3 linked regions of the Homo sapiens genome follow. The protein of the gene in region 2 purifies or fractionates together with the protein of the main gene of each other region. This does not show direct contact. Each region holds a gene or a part of one and is shown on either strand. Other genes may lie near its edges. The genes, in order: AZU1, IDH2 and RAB11A.

Region 1 (3,828 bases), on a different chromosome or scaffold from region 2:
GAGGATCAGTTGAACCCAGGAGATTGAGGCTGCAGTGAGCTGAGATGGTGCCGCTGCCCTCCAGCCTGGGCAACAGCGAGACCTCAACTCTGAAAAAAACAAAAGAAGGAGATGAAATTTACATAACTTAAAATTAGCCATTTTGAACGGTACAGTGAAGTGGTTTTCGGTGCATTCACCGACTTGTGCAACCATCACTGCTGTCCAGTCCCAGAACATTCCATCACCCCAAAGAAGGAAGCCCCATCTCCATCCATCAGCCATCACCCCCTGCCCTCCCCCGGCCCCTGGCAACCACAGATCCACTTCCTGCCTCTGCAGATTTGCTTGTTCTGGACATTTCGTCTATTTATTTTTATATAGTTTTTAATTTGTTTTTATTTATTTTTTTTGAGACGGAGTCTCTCTGTGTCACCCAGGCTGGAGTGCAGTGGCGCAATCTCGGCTCACTGCAACCTCCACCTCCCAGGTTCAAGCGATTATCCTGTCTCAGCTTCCCAAGTAGCTGGGACTATAGGCGCCCGCCACCACGCCCAGCTAATTTCTTTTTTTTTTTTGAAATGGAGTTTTGCTCTTGTCGCCCAGGCTGGAGTGCAATGGTGCGATCTCGGCTCGCTGCAACCTCCGCCTCCCAGGTTCAAGTGATTCTCCTGCCTCAGCCTCCTGAGTAGCTGGGATTACAGGCATGTGCCACCACGCCCAGTTAATTTTGTATTTTTAGTAGAGATGGGGTTTCTCCATGTTGGTCAGGCTGGTCTTGAACGCCCAACCTCAGGTGATCTGCCTGCCTCGGCCTCCCAGAGTGCTAGGATTACAGGTGTGAGCCACCGCACCCAGCTTGTCAATTATATCTCAATAAAGCTGTTGAAAAAGTTTAAAAAAATCACCCAATCGGGCACAGTGTTTCACACCTGTAATCCCAGCATTTTGGGAGGCCGAGGTGGGTGGATCACCTGAGGTCGGGAGTTTGAGACCAGCCTGGCCAATATAGTGAAACCCCATCTCTACTAAAAATACAAAAAATTAGCCAGGCGTGGTGGTGGACAACTGTAATCCTAGCTACTCAGGAGGCTGAGACAGGAGAATCACTTGAGCCTGGGAGGCGGAGGTTGCAGTGAGTCGAGATCACACCATTGCACTCCAGCCTGGGCAACAAGAGCGAAACTCCGTCTCAAAATAATAATAATAATAATAATAATAATAATCACCCATACAGACGCGCAGGACTCAACGCAGGACTGCCAGCTCCACTGCCCTGAGCCCCCCGGTGCCAGGCCCAGCGGGCAGTGCTGGAGCCCCAGTGGCTTGGGATGGGGAGACTGGGACTCTGAGCTGGCAATGTTCCTGGGTGCTGGCTGCATGCCCGCCATGTGCTGGGCTCCGGGATCCACTGGTTCCTGACACCCTCACCTGCCCCTGGGGGTGTGGCCATCTTCTAGAGAGGGAAACTGAGGATCAGTGCAGAATGTAGGGGGAGCCCAGGCTGGCCCAGGGAGCAGTTGGCGGTGGAGGCCTTGGGCAATTTCCCGTGTTCCCACTGAGTGGGGCTGTCCCTGGGCCTGGGCGGGGACGCCACCAACTGCCAAGGCCTGTGTATAAGGGCAGCCGCCGCCTTAGCCACAGACCTGCCCCGCCATGACCCGGCTGACAGTCCTGGCCCTGCTGGCTGGTCTGCTGGCGTCCTCGAGGGCCGGTGAGTGCCTCTCTGTGCCGGTGGTCCCCCATCTGTGCTAGGGCCCGGCTGCCAGGGCAGAACTCAGACTTAAAGCACAGAGAAGGCAAGCGGCTTGGCCTGGGTCACACAGCCAGCCCGGCCTGGACGATCCCGCGAAAGGCGTGAGGGCGGACGGTGTGCGGGACTCAGGGGCCCCCTGTCCTCTTAGGGAGTGGGACGATGGGGGAGGGTGGGTCCCCCCGCAGCCCCACTGGGTGGATAGAGCTGAGGCTGCAGCTTCACACGCCCTCCCGGCCACTGTGTGGATTCTTGGGGATCTCAGAGCTGTCTCCCCCCGACCCAGGCTCCAGCCCCCTTTTGGACATCGTTGGCGGCCGGAAGGCGAGGCCCCGCCAGTTCCCGTTCCTGGCCTCCATTCAGAATCAAGGCAGGCACTTCTGCGGGGGTGCCCTGATCCATGCCCGCTTCGTGATGACCGCGGCCAGCTGCTTCCAAAGCCAGTGAGGGGTCCTGGGGAGGGGGCCTAGGGGGCATTGGGGCTCAGAGAAGGGGCTTGGGGGGCTTAGGCATTCAGTGGGGGTGCTTGGTAGGTGAGGAGGGGAGGGGATTGCAAAAGGAGGGGCTCAGGGAAAGGAGGGGGCTTGGAGAGGGAAATGGGGACTGAGTTGAGGAGGGACCCAAGGATATTGGGGGGCTCAGATGGAGGAGGCCCAGAGAAGGGAAGGGGGTCAGATGGAGGAGGCCCAGAGAAAGGAAGAGGCTCAGATGGAGGAGGTGCAGTGAAGGAAAGGGGGTCAGATGGGGGAGGCCCAGAGAAGGGAAGGGGCTCAGATGGAGGAGGGGGCCCAGAGAAAGGAAGGGGCTCAGATGGAGGAGGTGCAGAGAAGGGAAGGGGGTCAGATGGGGGAGGCCCAGAGAAGGGAAGGGGCTCAGATGGAGGAGGTGCAGAGAAGGGAAGGGGCTCAGATGGAGGAGGTGCAGAGAAGAGAAGGGCCTCAGATGGAGGAGGTGCAGAGAAGGGAAGGGCCTCAGATGGAGGAGGTGCGGAGAAGGGAAGGGGGTCAGATGGAGGAGGTGCAGAGAAGGGAAGGGGGTCAGATGGGGGAGGCCCAGGGAAGGGAAGGGGCTCAGATGGAGGAGGGGCAGAGAAGGGAAGGGGGTCAGATGGGGGAGGCCCAGGGAAGGGAAGGGGCTCAGATGGGGGAGGCGCAGAGAAGGGAAGGGGGTCAGATGGAGGAGGTGCAGAGAAGGGAAGGGGGTCAGATGGGGGAGGCCCAGATAAGGGAATGGGGTCAGATGGGGGAGGTGCAGAGAAGGGAAGGGGGTCAGATGGGGGAGGCCCAGATAAGGGAAGGGGCTCAGATGGAGGAGGTGCAGAGAAGGGGAGGGGGTCAGATGGAGGAGGCTCAGAGAAGGGAAGGGACTCAGATGGAGGAGGGGGCGCAGAGAAGAGAAGGGGCTCAGATGGAGGAGGAGGCGCAGAGAAGGGAAGGGGCTCAAGATGGGAAGGGGGCCCTGGAAAGTCTCGGCTCTGCTTCTGTAAAAGCGGGGGAGTTTTCAGGGTGAAGGATTGCAGTCTGCAGGCTGGGATCCCCCCTAATTTGCAAGCCGGCTTGCTCTGTGCCCAGGCCCCAGCCTGGTGTCCTCCCTCTGCCCTTTCCTCCGCTACTCTCAGGAACCCCGGGGTTAGCACCGTGGTGCTGGGTGCCTATGACCTGAGGCGGCGGGAGAGGCAGTCCCGCCAGACGTTTTCCATCAGCAGCATGAGCGAGAATGGCTACGACCCCCAGCAGAACCTGAACGACCTGATGCTGCTTCAGGTGAGAGGATGGTGCCACCTGTGATCCCAGCACCTCGGGAGGCCGACGTTAGCCAGGGAAACAAGTCCAAACTTGGTCTCTACAAAAAAATACAAAAATTAGCCGGGAGTGGTGGCGCGCACCTGTGGCCCCTGTGCTTCAGGAGGCCGAGGCGGAAGGACGGCTTGAGGTCAGGAGTTCGAGACCAGCCTGGGCAACATGGCCAAACTCAGTCTCTACAAAAATATATATGTGTGTGTGTGTGTGTGTGTGTGTGTGTGTGTGTGTGTATCTTGCCGGGTGAGGTGGCTCATGCCTGTAATCCCAGCATTTTGGGAGGCCGAGGTGGGCGGA
Region 2 (3,728 bases):
GAACAGCAACATGAGCCAAGGCCAGCAGAGACTTGTTCTGCTTGTTCCAGGTACTGGTTTTTTAAAAAAATCTTAATTGGTGACCAAGTTTTAAAAATCAGTAAATCTCAACAATAAAACAAATAACTCAACGTTAAAATGGACAGAAGACTGGCTGGGCACCGTGGCTCATGCCTGTAATCCCAGCACTTTGGAAGGCTGAAGAGGGCAGATCACTTGAGGTCAGGAGTTCGAGACCAGCCTGGCCACAATGGTGAAACTCTGTGTCTACTAAAAATAGAAAAAAAATTAGCCTGGTGTGGTGACACACACCTGTAGTCCCAGCTATTTGGGAGGCTGAGGCAGGAGAATTGCTTGAACCCAGGAGGTGGAGGTTGCAGTGAGCAGAGATCATGCCACTGCACTCCAGCCTGGGTAACAGGAAGACTCCATCTCAAAATAAATAAATAAATATAATGGACAAAAGACTTAAATAGACATTTCAAGTCCAAAGATGATATACAAATGGCCAACAAGCACATGAAAAGATGCTCAACATCACTAATCATCAGGGAAATGCAAATCAAAACCATAATGAGATATCACCCCACTATCCCCTCACAACCACTAAGAGAGCTACTATCAGGAAAAGAAAAACAAAACAGAAAATAAAGTGCTAGCAAGGATGTGGAGAAATTGGAACTCTTGTGCCCTGTTGGTGGGAATGTGAAATGGTGCAGCTGCTGTGGAAAACAGTATGGGTGTTCCTTAGCTAAAAGGAAAAGAATTACTGCCGGGCACGGTGGCTCGCACCTGTAATCCCAGCACTGTGGAAGGCTGAGGCGGGTGGATCACGAGGTCAGAAGATCGAGACCATCCTGGCTAACACAGTGAAACCCTGACTCTACTAAAAATACAAAAAATTAGCCAGGCGTGGTGGCAGGCGCCTGTAGTCCCAGCTACTGGGGAGGCTGAGGCAGGAGAATGGCATGAACCCGGGAGGCGGAGCTTGCAGTGAGCTGAGATCGCGCCACTGCACTCCAGCATGGGCGAAAGAGAGCAAGACTCCGTCTCGAAAAAAAAAAAGAAAAGAAAAGGACAAGAATTACTATATGATCCAGCAATTCTGCTTCTGTATATACATCCAAAAATATCGAAAGCGGGGTCTGAAAGAGATATATGTATGCCCACATTCATAGCAGCAATGTTCACAACAGCAAAAGATAGAAGCAACCCACGTGTCCATCACAGATGAATGGATAAAGACAATGTGATACAGTCCCCCCTTATCAAAGGTTTTATTTCCATGACGTCAGTTACCTGTGGTGTCAGTTACCCACAGTCAACCATAGTCTGAAAATAGGTGAGTACAGTACAGTAAGATATTTTAAGAGATCACATTCATGTAACTTTCATTACAGTATATTGTTATAATTGTTCTATTTTATTACTAGTTATTATTGCTAATCTCTTACTGTTCCTAATTCATAAATTAAACTTTATCATAGATCTGTATGTATAGGAAAAAAACATAGTATCTACAGGCTTTGCAGTTTCAGGTATCCACTGGGGATCTTGAAATGCATCCTCCAAGGATAAGGGGGACTACTGTTATCTACATACAATGGAATATGATTCAGCCTTGAAAAGAAGGGAAATTCTGACACCTGCTACAAAGTGGATGAACCTGGGGGGCATTATGCTAACTAAGTGAAATAAACCAGTCACAAAAGACAAATACTATATGCTTCTACTTACATGAGGTACCTAGAATAGTCAAATTCATAGAAACAGAAAGTAAAAAGGTGGCTGCCAGGGACTGGGGACGGGAAGTGGGGAGGTATTGTTTCATGGGTAGAGAGTTTCGGTTTTGCAAGGTGACAAAGTTCTGGTGATGGATGGTGGTAATGTCTGCACAACAGTGCGAATGTACTTAACAATACTGTACACTGAACAATGACTAAGATGGTAAGTTTTATACGTTTTTTACCAAAATAATAAAAATTTAAACCAGTCAAAAAAAATCAGGAGATTTTATATAAAAATCTAGAAATGCAGCAGGCACTCACTCATGGCAAGGATGGGCTGGGCTGAAGGCGGCCTCTCCCTTCACTCCATGACAGCCAAGTGCCCTCCAGTGTGGCCCAGGGCACTGGAGTTTGAGACCCCTGTCTGCTGTTCAGCCTGTATGGTGGAGATACAGCCATGGTCTGCCCTTCTCTGAGAGATAAGTGGTGACAAGCTACCTGAAATACACAGAGCAGCAGCTAGGCCTCCCTGAAAACCTCCGAAGTGACAGCCACCACGAATCTTCAGCTGATGCATTGCACAAACACTGTCCTCTTGGCGAGAGTGCAGGATGGAATTACACCAGTCACCAGAGGCACGTTAGGCTGACTCTCCTCCCTGTCTGGGGCTCCTAGCACCCAATACCAAGTAAGGATTTCAAAACACATCCCTGGCTTCTTGCTGCTCCCAGCAGGAGGCTAGAGGTCCAGCCGCAGGCAGCCAGCCCCAGGCATAACTGCTCCCTCCACATTCCTACCCATGCTCTCAGCAGAAAGGCTGCTCAGTCAGCATGTCCCAGCAAAAGATCAGAGAGTGGGGAAAGGTTCCAATTCCTGGGGGCTCAAGAAGGCAGGACAGCAACTTTGTATATTTTATGTATGTATGTATGTATGTATGCATGCATGTATGTATGTATGTATGTATGTATGTATTGAGACAGAGTCTCACTCTGTCGCCTACACTGGAGGGCAGTGGCGTGATCTCGGCTCACTGCAAGCTCCACCTCCTGGGTTCAGGCAATTCTCCTGCCTCAGCCCCTGAGTAGCTGGGACTACAGGCGCCTGCCACCACACCCAGCTAATTTTTGTATTTTTAGTAGAGACCGGGTTTCACCATGGTGGCCAGGCAGGTCTCGAACTCCTGGCCCCAACTGATCCGCCTGCTTCGGCCTCCCAAAGTCCTGGGAGCCACCGCACGCGGCCAGAACAGCCATTTTGGAACAAACTCTAGTAGACTCCTTGGTGTCATCCTTCATTCCTTCCCTTCTCTCACATCCAAACCACCAAAACCAGAAGCCACCCTCAGACAAGCCCACCCTTGCCATAAGTGAGTGCCTGCTGCGTATCTAGATTTTTATGTAAAATCGCCTGAATTGGAACCTTTCCCCACTACTGGCTCCTCCTTCAAAATATATCCAGAATCCAACCACTTCTTCACCATCCCCAGCGCCACCACCCAGGTCCAAGCCATCATCCTCTCTTGCCAGGTCCCTGAAGCTAGAATGCTCCCGATAAGATGGAAATCAGGTAACGATACTCCTCTCAAAACCCTGCAAAGTAAAAGCGAAAGCTCTCAAAAATGGCCTGTGAGCCCTCTACAGACCCCACTGCCGAACCTCATCCTGTCACTCCACCTGGTGCCTGCTGAGCCAGCCTTCGCACCATCCTCTCTGCTCTTCCATCATGCCCTTGGCACCTGCGAGTCCCTCTTCCCCCAATACCGAAAATGGCCTGCTTCCTCCCCTCCTCAGCGATTCCTTCAGTGAGGACTTTTCTGGCTGCCCTATACAAACTTTTGTGCACACACCTTTCTTGCCTGTTTCTCCTTAGCTCTTCTCTTTTTGGGGGGAGAAGGGGGAGGCAGGGTCTTGCTTTGTCACCCAGGCTAGAGTGCAGTGGCACAATTGTACCTCACTGCAGCCTTGACCTCCTGGGCTCAAATGATCCTCCTGAGTAGCTAAG
Region 3 (3,000 bases), about 24 Mb from region 2:
CACTTCCCTAGAAATACCTGAGAAAATGGTATGCTGAGAGATTAGAGGTTGTCAACAGGGGGACAGGTGCTAAAAACAGTACATTATTCATTGGGATGAGAGTTAAAAAGGTCTGAGATTTTGTGGTTTGGAGCAAGGTTAAGTTCCACTGACTCAAACATAGTAAAGGAATCCTGTTGGCTGCTAATTCTCACTACCATCACTGGTACTGGTAACATAGTTAGCCAATATACATAACATTTTGTGCTCACACCCGTGTCAGGAACTATCCTATAATTAATAAATGTCAAAGAATTGAATTTAAATAATGTTTTGACTATTAATAATTAGATCACTAGATCAACAACCCCAAAATACCATGTGTATCATGTACATGCACACATAAACCTGTACACTTGGATTTAATCACTGGTTCTACTGGATAGCTAGCCTGTGGACTGATCTACCTTCTTGTAGATTCCTATTAAAGAAATAATTTTTTAAAAATTAAACACAAAATGTTTTTAAAAGTTCTCTCCCAGACATGAGTATATTTTAAAGTACATATTAAAAGCCAGCAGTTTTTTTTTAACAGCAAAAGCCATAAAACAAGCAGTTCTCAATTTACAGTTAACATAGCAGCCCATCAAGTGCTCCTCTCCCTTAGCATATATGGTACTTTGATGCATATTGTTGATATTGACAGTCATTTTGCAAATAAATGTTCTGAAAGCTTTCATCTTATTTAAAGGAGTAAACATGGAAATAAAGGCACCATTTTAATCAGGTTATTGTGATAAGACCAAAAACATTCCACAAAGTGCATACCTCATTTTGACTTCTCTATTAAATTTAAACTTGAGTTAAAATGTTAATAATTTGGCTTTAATTGAAGAGAGAGTTCATTCAGAGAATTACAGAGTTCGAATTGGGATGAATCCCCAGAGTTTATTTAATCTGGTACCCTCATTAATTGGAAGAATGTGAGGCTCAAAAATGAAATGACCACAAGAGCCATGACTAGAATCTCTTCGTTACTCAGTCCAGTGCTCTATCATACCAGCTACTTTCACTCTTCTAACCCACAGTTTACCGTATTTTCTAATACATGCTAGTATATTGCCTAGTACACAACATCCTTTCAAATATTCTTTCTTTATTCTCCAATTCACTTTTCAGGAGAATAGATAACCTCAATCATATTGATTCTCAGCCTAATGGTCTCCCTTACATAAATTATAATGACATAAGCATTTTGTATCACTTTATTGTTACCATCGACCTCCTACAGTTTGGGGGAACCCAATCATTCTTTAAAACATTAGAATGACAACTCCAGTTGATTTGGCATATTGTATAGGTGAGTGGGAAAGACTTGTCAAATCCCAGAAAGGGGCGTGGCACCAGCACCACCCAACCAGAAGAAAAATCTCTCTTTGGTGCTAGTGTCATAGCTCCCTATCTGTTCCGCTAACCCATTAAATGATGTGGTGGAAGAGGATCCTTTCACAATCTTTGTTCATTTTTTTACAGAGCAAATGGAAGTCATACATAACCTTTTACAAAATTCATTTTTTGTTTTAATTTTTTTCCAGGTATGTGATATTTGTGAGACATCAGAAAATCAATTTATATTTTTTTCCTCTGTTAAACCAAGCCCCACAAATTGAAACCTGACAGGTTAGAATAAGTTCTTAAATATCCACCCAGCCTTTGAATTCTTTTGCTTCTAGTGTTGGCCAAAACTGTCTAAATAGTACAGCTTCTTCTCTAAGGTAGATGGAAGAGATTATCACAACAGCTCAACCCACTAAAAGCATTTGTATTTTATAAATACCAGTCAGCAAAGACAAAAATTAAGATATTCATTTTTTCAATGATCAAAGAAATGTGACCAGCTCTGATGGGCAACCCAAACTCAAGAAGTGTAACTTTTCTGCAGAACCCTTCAGAACTTAAAAGATCACTGATGTAAGGTCACTAGCTGGCACCTCTTCTTATAATTACAATTAAATGGGCAATAACTTACCCTTACATAATGACAACTACTATTAAAGAGAAATCATGGCATTTGAGAACAATGACATAAGATTAAATCAAGGCACCATGGCTAACTATTCAGGAGACTATATAACAGGTTAAAAAAAAATTCAAGGCCAGGCACGGTGGCTCACGCCTTTAATCCCAGCACTTTGGGAGGCCGAGGTGGGTGTATCACCAGGTCAGGAGATCGAGACCACCCTGGCTAACATGGTGAAACCCCGTCTCTACTAAAAATACAAAAAATTAGCCAGTCGTGGTGGCTGGCGCCTATAATCCCAGCTACTCGGGAGGCTGAGGCAGGAGAATGGCATGAACCCTGGAGGTGGAGCTTGCAGTGAGCTGAGATGGTGCCATTGTACTCCAGCCTGGGCAACAGAGCAAGACTCCGTCTCAAAAAAAAAAAAAAAAATTCAAAGTTAAAATAACTGAAAATCAAGGTCAAGTAGCAAAATACTTCTAAACTGCCTTAAGCCCTGAACTGTCATAATATTTAAAAATTTATTGTTTCTTGCTTGAGACAGTTTGTCTCCTAAGATACTACTCAGAATAAAGACACCTGCTGAAATGCAATCAAAGTCATTTTCTAATACCTAATATTTCCTGGAATTCTCCCAAGATCCAGCCATACTCAAAGCAACATTTAAGTCTACACTTGGGTAAAAATTCTAAGTTTACTTTATTCATTTTCAATTCACTATTTAGTTTTTCTCTTTTCTCCTTACTTTGTAAAAAATCTACCACCAACTTTCAATAAAATAGAGATGGTTTCTTTTCCTGGGTCTGGTGACACTGTTATATATGAAAATACACACTACTTTCCTAATGTTTTTGGACATACTTTTTCCAAGGAAAGCATAATTGAACTGCAGTTCTAAAATCAAAGCTGAATTCACACACTGATGCTCCCAATTCAATGTTTACTCAGTAATGCAAGAACCTATGCTTTTACATCAGGATTCCACGGCTGCACCCAAAGCA

Evidence for each region.
Region 1: the proteins of IDH2 (region 2) and AZU1 purify together in Homo sapiens (co-immunoprecipitation; one large-scale study listed by IntAct). This does not show direct contact.
Region 3: the proteins of IDH2 (region 2) and RAB11A fractionate together in Homo sapiens (co-fractionation; one large-scale study listed by BioGRID). This does not show direct contact.

What each region holds. Positions count from the first base shown.
Region 1 is NC_000019.10:826,212-830,039, forward strand, and holds the start of AZU1 (azurocidin preproprotein), read left to right. Parts: upstream 1-1,625; 5' UTR 1,626-1,635; coding exon 1,636-1,693; intron 1,694-2,018; coding exon 2,019-2,175; intron 2,176-3,350; coding exon 3,351-3,495; intron 3,496-3,828. UniProt on the Homo sapiens protein: This is a neutrophil granule-derived antibacterial and monocyte- and fibroblast-specific chemotactic glycoprotein. Binds heparin.
Region 2 is NC_000015.10:90,095,863-90,099,590, forward strand, and holds part of IDH2 (isocitrate dehydrogenase [NADP], mitochondrial isoform 1 precursor), read right to left. Parts: intron 1-3,728. UniProt on the Homo sapiens protein: Plays a role in intermediary metabolism and energy production. It may tightly associate or interact with the pyruvate dehydrogenase complex.
Region 3 is NC_000015.10:65,889,490-65,892,489, reverse strand, and holds the end of RAB11A (ras-related protein Rab-11A), read right to left. Parts: 3' UTR 501-3,000; downstream 1-500. UniProt on the Homo sapiens protein: The small GTPases Rab are key regulators of intracellular membrane trafficking, from the formation of transport vesicles to their fusion with membranes.